Homo sapiens: one gene and its partners. The protein of the gene in region 1 purifies or fractionates together with the protein of each later gene. This does not show direct contact. Each region holds a gene or a part of one and is shown in the gene's direction. Other genes may lie near its edges.

Region 1 (3,655 bases):
AGAGGTTGCAGTGAGCCAGGATTGTGTCCCTGTACTCCAGCCTGGGTGACAGAGCTAGACTCAGTCTCAAAATAATAATAATAATAATTTAGTGATTCTCCCTGGCATCGCCTCCTCCAGGAAGCCCCTGACCCTACACCCTCAGGTTGCCTTGGTATATCCCTGGGGGCTTCTGCAGTCCCTAGATTTGCTTCCATCAGCCCTCGCCAGACTGGATTGGGATCCTCTGTTTACCCCATGTTCCCCACTGCCCTACTCCATCATCCCCAGGCTGGTAGCTCCCTGCAGAGAGGGGCCATGTCTGATCCACCTCTGTTCCCAGAATCACGTGCTCACTCCCTGACCTCTTTCACCTCCTTTTCAAACATCACCTTCTCTGGGAGGACTTCCCTGCTTGCCTCCTTAAAATCACAGGCCCCAGGTCCCTGTGTTTTGCTGTGTTTTCCCCTATACTTAGCAACTAGAAAGGGAGAGGAAAGTATGTTTGCTAGAGATGAAAGTTCAAGGAGCCAACCTAACTGAGTGGAGGGAGTGACTCACATTCTCCATGAAGGAGGTGGGAGCAGGGGCACCCTCTGAGAGCCCAGCTTGTCCCCAGAGGGAAGCTGGTGTGGACACTTTGTAATCCACAGTGTTGTTTACTTATTGATTGCTCTGGTGTCTGTCGCCCCTTCTGGAATTTGAGCTCCAGGTGTGGGGGAGACAGTTTGATGTGGTCACTGCTTCCTGAGACAGTGGGTTCACTACTAGAATAGTGCAGACCTCAGACTCCAAGCCCAGCGCCTGCGTCCACTTCCTGCTGTGTGACCTTGAGGAAATTGCTTCACCACTCTAAGCCTCATTTTTCTACTCTGTACAATGGGGATGATGGTACTATCTACTTTATTGAGTTGTAATGAAAATTAAATAAGCCCTTGGAACAGTGCCTGGCACACAGTGGTTTGTTTTGTTTTATTTTTTGAGACGGAGTCTATCTCTGTTGCCCAGGCTGGAGTGCAGTGGCATGATCTCAGCTCACTGGAACCTCCACTTCCCAGGTTCAAGCAACTCTGCCTCAGCCTCCTGAGTAGCTGGGATTACACGTGTGAGCCACCACGCCTGGCTAATTTTTGTATTTTTAGTAGAAACGAGGTTTTGCTATGTTAGCCAGGCTGGTCTAGACCTCCTGACCTCAGGTAATCCACCCGCCTCAGCCTCCCAACGTGCTGGGATTACAGGTGTGAGCCACTGTGACCAGCTGCAATAAGTGTTTTTATTGGGAGTAGTAGTAATGGATGTTTAGTTAGTCATTTATTCAAAACATAACAAATGCTGTGCTCAGAGTGTATTCGTGTGTGTGTGTGTGTGTGTGTGTGTGTGTGTGTGTGTGTGTATGTGTGTCCGGCTGTGTGTATGTTTCTGGGTATGTGCGTGTATCTAACATTTTAATAGGTATTTGGCAACTCAGTAACACCCTGTCCTGTTCAGGGGCACATTTTACAGGAAGCTGATGAAGCTTAACCTTCAGGGCCTCTTTCAAGACCCCAGGAGAAAGGCTGGGCCTGGTGGCTCACGCCTGTAAACACACACTTTGGGAGGCTGAGGTGGGTGGATCACGAGGTCAGGAGTTCAAGACCATCCTAGCCAACAGAGTGAAACTCTGTCTCTACTAAAAATACAAAAATTAGCTGGGCATGGCGGCGCGTGCCCGTAGTCCCAGCTACTCGGGGGGCTGAGGCAGAAGAATCGCTTGAACCAGGGAGGCGGAGGTTGCAGTGAACCGAGATCGTGCCACTGCACTCCAGCCTGGGTGACAGAGGGAGACTCCGTCTCACAAAAAAAAAAAAAAAAAAAAAAACCCAGGAGAGGCTGGGCAATTTTGTATTCATTATCTGGGATTCATTTTCTTAGAGATGACCCCACAGGATAGAAACTCCAGGCCCAGAAAACGTGTTTCCATCTCGGGGCCCAACCCCGACCAGCCACACCCTCTCGTCTGGGAGCGCCTGGTGTTTCTTCAGGTTTTCCTCTTTGGGCTCCACGCACTTGCCCCTCCTGCTCTCAGCAAGGCCACCTTGTCTGACAGGGCACACGTGGGGCTCACATGTCACCTCAGGGACGAGTTCTCTGTCTGCCCCCCGCCGAGTTAGTGATCTGTCACTGGGGTGGCTCCCTGGCCTTGGCTGTCCTGCTTGCTGAGTGCCCTAGCACGTGCCCAGGGACTCGCTTGACAGAAAAGCCTAGAGGACAGAACCACACAAGTCCTTGAGCTGTGTCAGGGGTTCAGGAAGAGCTGTCGAAAATCACTTTATAAAATCCCTCTTGGGCCGGGCGTGGTGGCTCACACCTGTAATTCCAGCATTTTGGGAGGCCGAGGTGGGCGGATCACCTGAGGTCAGGAGTTCGAGACCAGCCTGGCCAACATGACGAAACCCCATCTCTACTAAAAATAAAAAAATTAGCCAGGCGTGGGCCGGGCGCGGTGGCCCACACGTGTAATCTCAGCACTTTGGGAGGCTGAGGCGGGTGGATCACAAGGTTAGGAGATTGAGACCATCCTGGCTAACACGGTGAGACCTTGTCTCTACTAAAAATACAAAAAATTAGCCAGGCGTGGTGGCAGGCGCCTGTAGTCCCAGCTACTGGGGAGGCTGAGGCAGGAGAATCGCTTGAACCCAGAAGGTGGAGTTTGCAGTGAGCCAAGATCATACTACTGCACCCCAGCCTGGGCAACAGAACAAGACTCTGTATCAAAAAGAAAGAGAAAGAGAGAGAGAGAGAGAGAGAGAAAGAGAGAAAGAAAAGAGAAGAGAAGAAAATCCCTCTTGCCTGCAGTGGACAACAAATAGGAAGACTGGCTCTCCTAACACCGTGGGCACACGTAGCCTCTTTCAGAGTCTCACAGTTCCCAAGACAGATTTGGGGTTAGACCCGTGGTCCTGCCACTTCCATGCTCAGTGGCCCTGGCCAAGGTACTTGGCCTCTCTGTGCCTCAGTTGCCTCATCTGTAAAATGAGAGGTAATGGCAGTAACCAACCTCACAGGCTACTAGGATGGTCAAACGAGTTAATGCATATAAAACCCTTGACTCGTTGTCTGCATGGGTCAGTGCTGCTTTTAAAAAAATTTTTTTTTTCTTTTCTTTTTTTTTTTTTGAGATAGAATCTGGTCTGTCACCCAGGCTGGAGTGCATTGATGTGATCCCTGCTCACTGCAACCTCCACCTCCCGGGTTCAAGTGATTCTCCTCCCTCAGCCTCCCAACTAGCTGGAATTACAGGCATGTGCTAAAACGCTCGACTAATTTTTGTATTTTTAGTAGAGATGGGGTTTTACCATGTTGGCCAGGCTGGTCTCGAACTCCTGACCACAAGTGATCCACCCACCTCAGCCCCACAAAGTGCTGGGATTACAGGTGTGAGCCGCCACGCCCAGCTTTGAGGCTGTTTTTGATATTGGTGGATATGTCGTCTCTTTAAGAGAAAGCCAGCACTTAATGCTGAATGATTTACCTCAATTATAAAACTTTTTTTTTTTCTTTTTGAGACAAGGTCTAGCTCTGTCACCCAGGCTAGAGTGGTACAGTCACAGCTCGCTGCAGCCTCGACCCTCCTGGGTTCAAGCCGTCCTCCCACCTCAGCCTCCTCAGTAGCTGGGACTACAGGTGCACGCCACCA
Region 2 (3,655 bases), on another chromosome or scaffold:
AGCTGCGTTGGCAGCCATTTTCCAGGAGTGTCCCTGAAACTTGCTTTTCAGCTGCTCCCTGGTGGCTTTGGCATTGGACAGGGGTGGCCAGCCAGGTACATGCTGACTGTATCCTTCCCCCAAGGAGCTCCAGTTCACTGTCCCCTATTGCCACCCTACATCAGCAGGGCCTCTTTCCACATACCAGTTTGCAACCACTTCTAAATAATTAGCTTTGTGATCTTACATTGGGGGGTTGAAGACACTCATGGAGTGTGGGGTTAAAAGAGCCTTTATTCCTCAAAGTCATACTGAGGCCCCAGTCTGATGCACATTCCATTCCTAGATGGTGTGATGGTGGGCCTGTGTCTGGCTTCAGAGTTTCCAGCTCACTAGAGTTGCGGGGGCGCAAGGGTGGAGTGTCCATTCCCTGCAAAGAATCCTACAGTTCCTCCAACCCCTTGGCGCAGGCAGATTTCTGGAAGTCGTGAGCAGGTCCTTTAATCCTTGTTGGAAGATGTTGATGAAAATCAAGGTTGAGGGTTGTAAACTGGGGCTTAAACATAAAGGTGATCCAGTATCTGAGCCCAGATGTGGGCCTGGTAGGAAAGCTCTGTTGTTTGGGCCAAGTAGGGAAGGGTCTTGAGGAACGAGTGGGTTTGTTCTCATCACAGGGTCTAGTCTTACTGGGTCCTGGGCAGAGTATTAGTACATGCCCCTATTTCAAAGGAAGGTGGACCAACATCAGCATCCTACATGTGCCACAGATGTTCATTCATTCAACAGATACTTCTTTTTTTTCCCAAATGGATATTTCCTTGAGAATCTTTTATGAGCCAGGCCTCATGCTAAGGCATTGGGGATAACCATAAATAAGACAGACACCATCTCTTTCTCTCATGGCCTAGTGGGACAGCCACTGATTAATTATTTAATTCAGGTAGTAAGTGCTGGAAAGAGAAAGTGTTAATATAATGTGGTAAGAGAATGTATAACAGGGATCCCTAACCTAATTCAAGGAGTCAGGAAAGCCTTCTCTGAGAACCTCTGGGTCTTTCTTAGAATAATGTTTTTAAATGTATAAAGTAAAATGCATAGAATTACAAAGAAAGCAGTTTTATTGAAATACAGTTATCAAAATATAACAACAAGGTTGTGATAAAATAATATTTATGTTTATTAATGCATCATATAAAAAGATCAAAGGTACAAGCTTGATAACTTCTATAATTTTAAGTTGTGATGAGCATAAATAGTGTTTCAGGATATCTTGTAATGTGATAAGAAAATATGATTTCTGTTGGTGGCAAAGTCACAGACACTGCTACCCTAATTACTACTGTAATTTGTTATCTACATTCATAAATGTAGAAAGCATTTATACATTTATAAATACATTCATAATACAGGAAAGGCTAAATTTCAGTTAGAGGTTAGTGAAGATAAAGATGTCATTTTTCTCCATCCAAATTCGTAGACTACAGTGGAAAAAAATTATATAACACTTGGAAATAAAAGATGATTTTGTGACATTTTAGTATCATACTGGAGTATTGTATAAGAAACCACCTAAGGACCAGCTGTGTTCTAGGGGATGTAACTCTGTTTATTATTTTTTATGGGCCATACTTTGTAAAGTTAAGTAGGATGCAAATTATTTCTGTTTGGTAAAGAAGAGAAGCACAAAGATTATTGCCCTGAAGGACATTAACCTGTTGGTATCTAATGTAGCAATCTTATATCAGGATTATATCCTCTTTTTTAGGGTCTCTTATTAGCGAGTTAAGTAAAACTTTGAAATATGCTCAATACCTATTTGTATGAGAATTAGGCTTTTAACATTTTAGAACTGTACTTGACTCCAGTTCAACTGCTGAGTGAGCAGGACGTAAAGATGTGTTGCTTAGAAGAGAGGTCTGATCTGGAGATGTTAATTTAGGGGTGCTGTTCAGGAGAGTGGGTGAAGTTGGCTGGGGGACCATATAGGGTAGGAAGAGAGGGTAGACTGAGTGAGCTGTGGAACTTCAACATTGAAAGAATGGGGAGAGGAGGGTTTACAAAGAAGAAAGGAATGATTGCTAGAGAGGTAGGAGGGAAACCAAGTGTCGCATCCAGTTCAAGAGGCCAAACAAGATGAGAACTGGAAGTGCCTGTAGGGTTTATCTATAGGAGGTCATTGTTGAGCCTTCACCAAGAGCCTTTTTTGTGGTGGTTGTGGGGAGGGCAGATTTCAGAGGGATGAGCAATGGAAGGAGGGAGGAGAATGGGAGGAGCAGGGGAGATGGAAAATTCTGGCTGTGAGTGGAGAGGGGAGTGATATGGGGTCCAGAGAGAGAGTTTTTAAAAGATGGGTCAGTGATGGAGTTTCTTCACCTTAAGGAGATATGTGTAAAATGGATTCCTGGGCTCCCAGCCCCTGGAGATGTTTTTCTTCAAGAATAAAGCCCAGGAATCTGTATTCCCAGAATACCGAGCTCTGCGGTAAAGCTACAAAACTAGACACATTTCCAAGTTAATCTTATATGGCTGGTGGTATTTTGCCAGCCGAGGTGGGTGCTCTCAATTGAGTGTGTAGCACAAGTTCTGCTCACATTGGAGCTGTGTCACCATTGTCTGCTTGGTGTCACTTGGCCTGAGCATGTGCTTTTCTCTGAAGGGATTTGGGGGTTTGTGGACATGCTGGTAGCAGAGGGAAGATGGATCAGGTTGTCATTGTAGCTCTTTTCAGCAGGTCACGCTCAATAGCTGGATTGGAAGGGACAGCAGACTTGCCAGCCTCTCGGGTATTATTCTGGGTGGAGCAACGGGGAGTGGATGATGCTCCAGGGATGTCTGTGGGAACTATTCACATTGACAGCCCAAGAGAAAAGCATCAGATCTGTCCTGGCGGGGACCTGGCTCTACTGTTTTAGGCTTAATCCGAGGCAAATCCCTTCTCTGAGCCTCAGTTTTCACATCTCTAAAGTGGGGATAGTACCACCTCTGCCTATAAACACTCATTGTTTATGACAATTTTTCAACTCCTGCAAGAACAGTTATACATTTTACAGTGTAACCCAGTACACACTGGGCTCACTGAATGCATAGTGTTGCTACCTGTGCTACTCACTGATGTTTTCTAGTCAATGTAATTTTTTAAAAATGCTACTGTAACTCACTGATTTTATGACTAGACTCCTGGGTTGAGACCTGAAGGGTGGAAACAGTGGCTTAGACTCTCAGCTTCAGAGGATGAAATGAGATCATGTGTGTAAAAGCATGGATGTACACCGTGGGTCATGAACACTGAGTTGTTATTTTCTTATCAGTTAACGGAGCTTGGAGGCAGAGTTGATTTCCGGAGTGGGAATTCACCTGCTCTTCCTCCCTCCCTGCTGCCTAATTCAATGTTCCCTCTACCAGTTCTTCCTCGTTAACAGGCCTGGCACACCAAGCTGGCGGTGATCCAGACCCCTCTTGGCTCAAGAAGAGGTTTTCCAAAACATTAAAAGCTTTAGGGACTTAAGTCCTGGCTAAATGCACTGCAGTTGCAATTTCAGGATAAGAAAACCTGTTTTCATAAGCTCTCAGATAAGTTGCCCTGCCCCTGAATTGTCCATTGTTGACAGCAACATTTGTGCCATGGGGAATAAAAAGGGGAGACACTGTGCTGCGTAGCCCCAAATGTAAGGTGTGG
Region 3 (2,877 bases), on another chromosome or scaffold:
CCATCTGCTTATTTAACTTACTGGTGCCTTCATAACTTGCTTCATTTCCACTCTTATATCTACCACTTGTCCTTGATGATGAAGTGCTTCTGCGCATAGCAGTTTCCTGGCTAGGCAGATTAACAGATTAACATAGCACCCAGTTCAGAAGGGATAGTTCAGTTTGCAGGATCACAGTATCCCATGGCCAGGAATTCAGTCTGTAGTAGGGCCCAGTAGCAAACCAAAAGTTATTTTTCAAAAGGACAATGGTTACTTGACAAAAGTGGATGCATAGATTATAAGTGTAGGAGACTTCACTGAGTTTTCTGTTGGAGCTTGTCATATTGGATCCACTGAGTTATAAGGATGAGTGTCGAAGCTGCTTGTCCTGGGGCAGCTGGTGAGCCTTCTTATGCTCTAAGCCCCATTCTAAGCTGACAGCTTCTTGGGTCATCTCGTTTGGGTCAAATGGTTTGAAGCAACACACTTAAATAAGGTACATGTGGCCTCCAAGATCCTAATTTGCACAGAAAAAGAATGTTGTGTGTTCTCCAACCTTACTCCAAGAGGTTGTATTTTGGTATAGATTTTTTATTTTTTTCTCCTCTCATTTATTGATCAAGATGGATCTACTTTTCCCCCTGACCTTTCTAACTATCTGGTACAGCTCCAGTGGGCCTAGAGAGGATTCAAGGGAAGCCTGTTTCTTTGGAGCCTCCGCTTCAAAGTCAGGTGGGAGGCGTTGTATCTGATTACAGTGTTATAAAACAAGGCCAGAATCCATTCTAGCCCTTCACCCTTTTACAGAGAGAAAATATCCCATTGCTATTGACCACTTCAAACCCTCAATGATAGGAGCCTCAACTTAAGCTTGCCCTTATAGAAAATGATACAGTTTATACATTTGGGAACATTTTATTTTACTTTTGAAATAAAAGTGAAACTAAAAACTACTGGCGGGGCAGTATGGTTCATGCCTGTAATCCCAGCACTTTGGGAGGCCCAGGTGGGTGGATCATCTGAGGTCAGGAGATTGAGACCATCCTGGCTAACACAGTGAAACCCCGTCTCTTCTAAAAATACAAAAAATTAGCCGGGCATGGTGGGGGGCGCCTGTAGTCCCAGCTACTCGGGAGGCTGAGGCAGGGGAATGGCGTGAACATGGGAGGCGGAGCTTGCAGTGAGCCGAGATCGTGCCACTGAGCTCCACCCTGGGCGACAGAGTGAGATCTGTCTCAAAAAAAGCTACTTAAATAATTTGTTCTGTGATCACACTAATACCTTTCTTAAAATCACACTATGAATTTTTTTTTTTTTTTTTTTTTTTTTTTTGAGATGGAGTCTCACTCTGTTGCCCAGGCTGGAGTGCAGTGGCGCCATTTCAGCTCACTGCAAGCTCCGCCTCCCGGGTTCACGCCATTCTCCTGCCTCAGCCTCCCGAGTAGCTGGGACTACAGGCATCCGCCACCACGTCCGGCTAATTTTTTCTGCATTTTTAGTAGAGACGGGGTTTCACCATGTTAGCCAGGATGGTCTCAATCTCCTGACCTCGTGATCCACCCGCCTTGGCCTCCCAAAGTGCTGGGATTACAGGCGTGAGCCACCGCGCCCGGCCACACTGTGATTTCTTATACTTTATGGATGCTACTGATCCCATAGTGAAATCAGCTTGGTAATAACTTAGAAATTTCATGTCCTTCTTTCTAGATGAATTCTTTCCTGTGTTTTTTTTTATTTGCTGTATTAATTGGTCGAAAGGAGCTTTTTGCTGCATTTGGTTTTTATGATAGCCAACCCACTCTTATTGGACTATTGATCATCTTCCAGTTTATTTTTTCACCTTACAATGAGGTAATGTATGATCTTTAAAATTATCACACATATGCTCTTGCCTGCTTCAAATCTAGAGCTTTCAGGATAGTGAAAAAGGAAATAGAACAGTACAGTTTTAACAAATAGATGAAACAAAGTCTTTTAGTCCCCTGATTCACTGGTCAGTATGACAAAGTAGCAGAAAAATTCAAGCCCAAATAAATAAACGTTTGCATACTCTTAGGAAAGTATAAGTAGAAAACTAGACTTCAGTGGTGAACACCTAAAAGGACTCGGTAGATGGAGATTAACTATTGGAATGTTGTGTCCTAGGCCACATATTCACCAGTGCTTGGGTAAAAATCTTATGTGTATGAGGGGACAAAGCAAACACTAATTGGTACAGCTCAGTAAGGGAGGCTTAGTGACTGTTCCTCTGCTCCATGACCACCTGCCTCCATATAGCCTGAGGGATCCACCCAAACCCACAAAATCAAAATCGGGTATTTTGTGGTAAATGAAACTTAAGAACATTGCTCTGTGTTAGCTCATTAGGGGTATTCCGTGTGAGTGATAATACATAGGTTAATGTGAGACTATATAACAAACCTGACAATGGCATCATTTCATGATGTTTGGTAAGGCTTCCAAATTAAGCTAAGAAATAATATTGAAGATCTTGAGGTATCTCCATTCAGAAGAATTCTTTCTTGGGATAGATTGTAGAGTTAAGATGAGCTAAATGAATTATATTTTTCTATTATGTATGGTGGGGACACCAGGAAAGAAAAATGGAGGGGCATAGATCATATTCATATAGCATTGTCCACATAAACAAAAATAAATTTGGCAGAGAACTGAGATGTATTATCTTAAAACTCTTTTTTTTTTTTTTTTTTTAAGATGGAGTCTCGCTCTGTCTCCCAGGCTGGAGTGCAGGGGTGTCATCTTGGCTCACTGCAACCTCCGCCTCCCGGGTTCAAGCAATTCTCCTGCCTCAGCCTCCTGAATAGCTGGGACTACAGGCACCCATCACCACGCCCAGCTAATTTTTGTATTTTTACTAGAGACAGGGTTTCACCA

Evidence for each region.
Region 2: the proteins of ETFB (region 1) and PDIA5 fractionate together in Homo sapiens (co-fractionation; one large-scale study listed by BioGRID). This does not show direct contact.
Region 3: the proteins of ETFB (region 1) and ZMPSTE24 fractionate together in Homo sapiens (co-fractionation; one large-scale study listed by BioGRID). This does not show direct contact.

Annotation. Positions count from the first base shown.
Region 1 is NC_000019.10:51,359,880-51,363,534, reverse strand, and holds part of ETFB (electron transfer flavoprotein subunit beta), read left to right. Parts: intron 1-3,655. UniProt on the Homo sapiens protein: Heterodimeric electron transfer flavoprotein that accepts electrons from several mitochondrial dehydrogenases, including acyl-CoA dehydrogenases, glutaryl-CoA and sarcosine dehydrogenase.
Region 2 is NC_000003.12:123,073,380-123,077,034, forward strand, and holds part of PDIA5 (protein disulfide-isomerase A5 precursor), read left to right. Parts: intron 1-3,655.
Region 3 is NC_000001.11:40,289,165-40,292,041, forward strand, and holds part of ZMPSTE24 (CAAX prenyl protease 1 homolog), read left to right. Parts: intron 1-1,689; coding exon 1,690-1,833; intron 1,834-2,877. UniProt on the Homo sapiens protein: Transmembrane metalloprotease whose catalytic activity is critical for processing lamin A/LMNA on the inner nuclear membrane and clearing clogged translocons on the endoplasmic reticulum.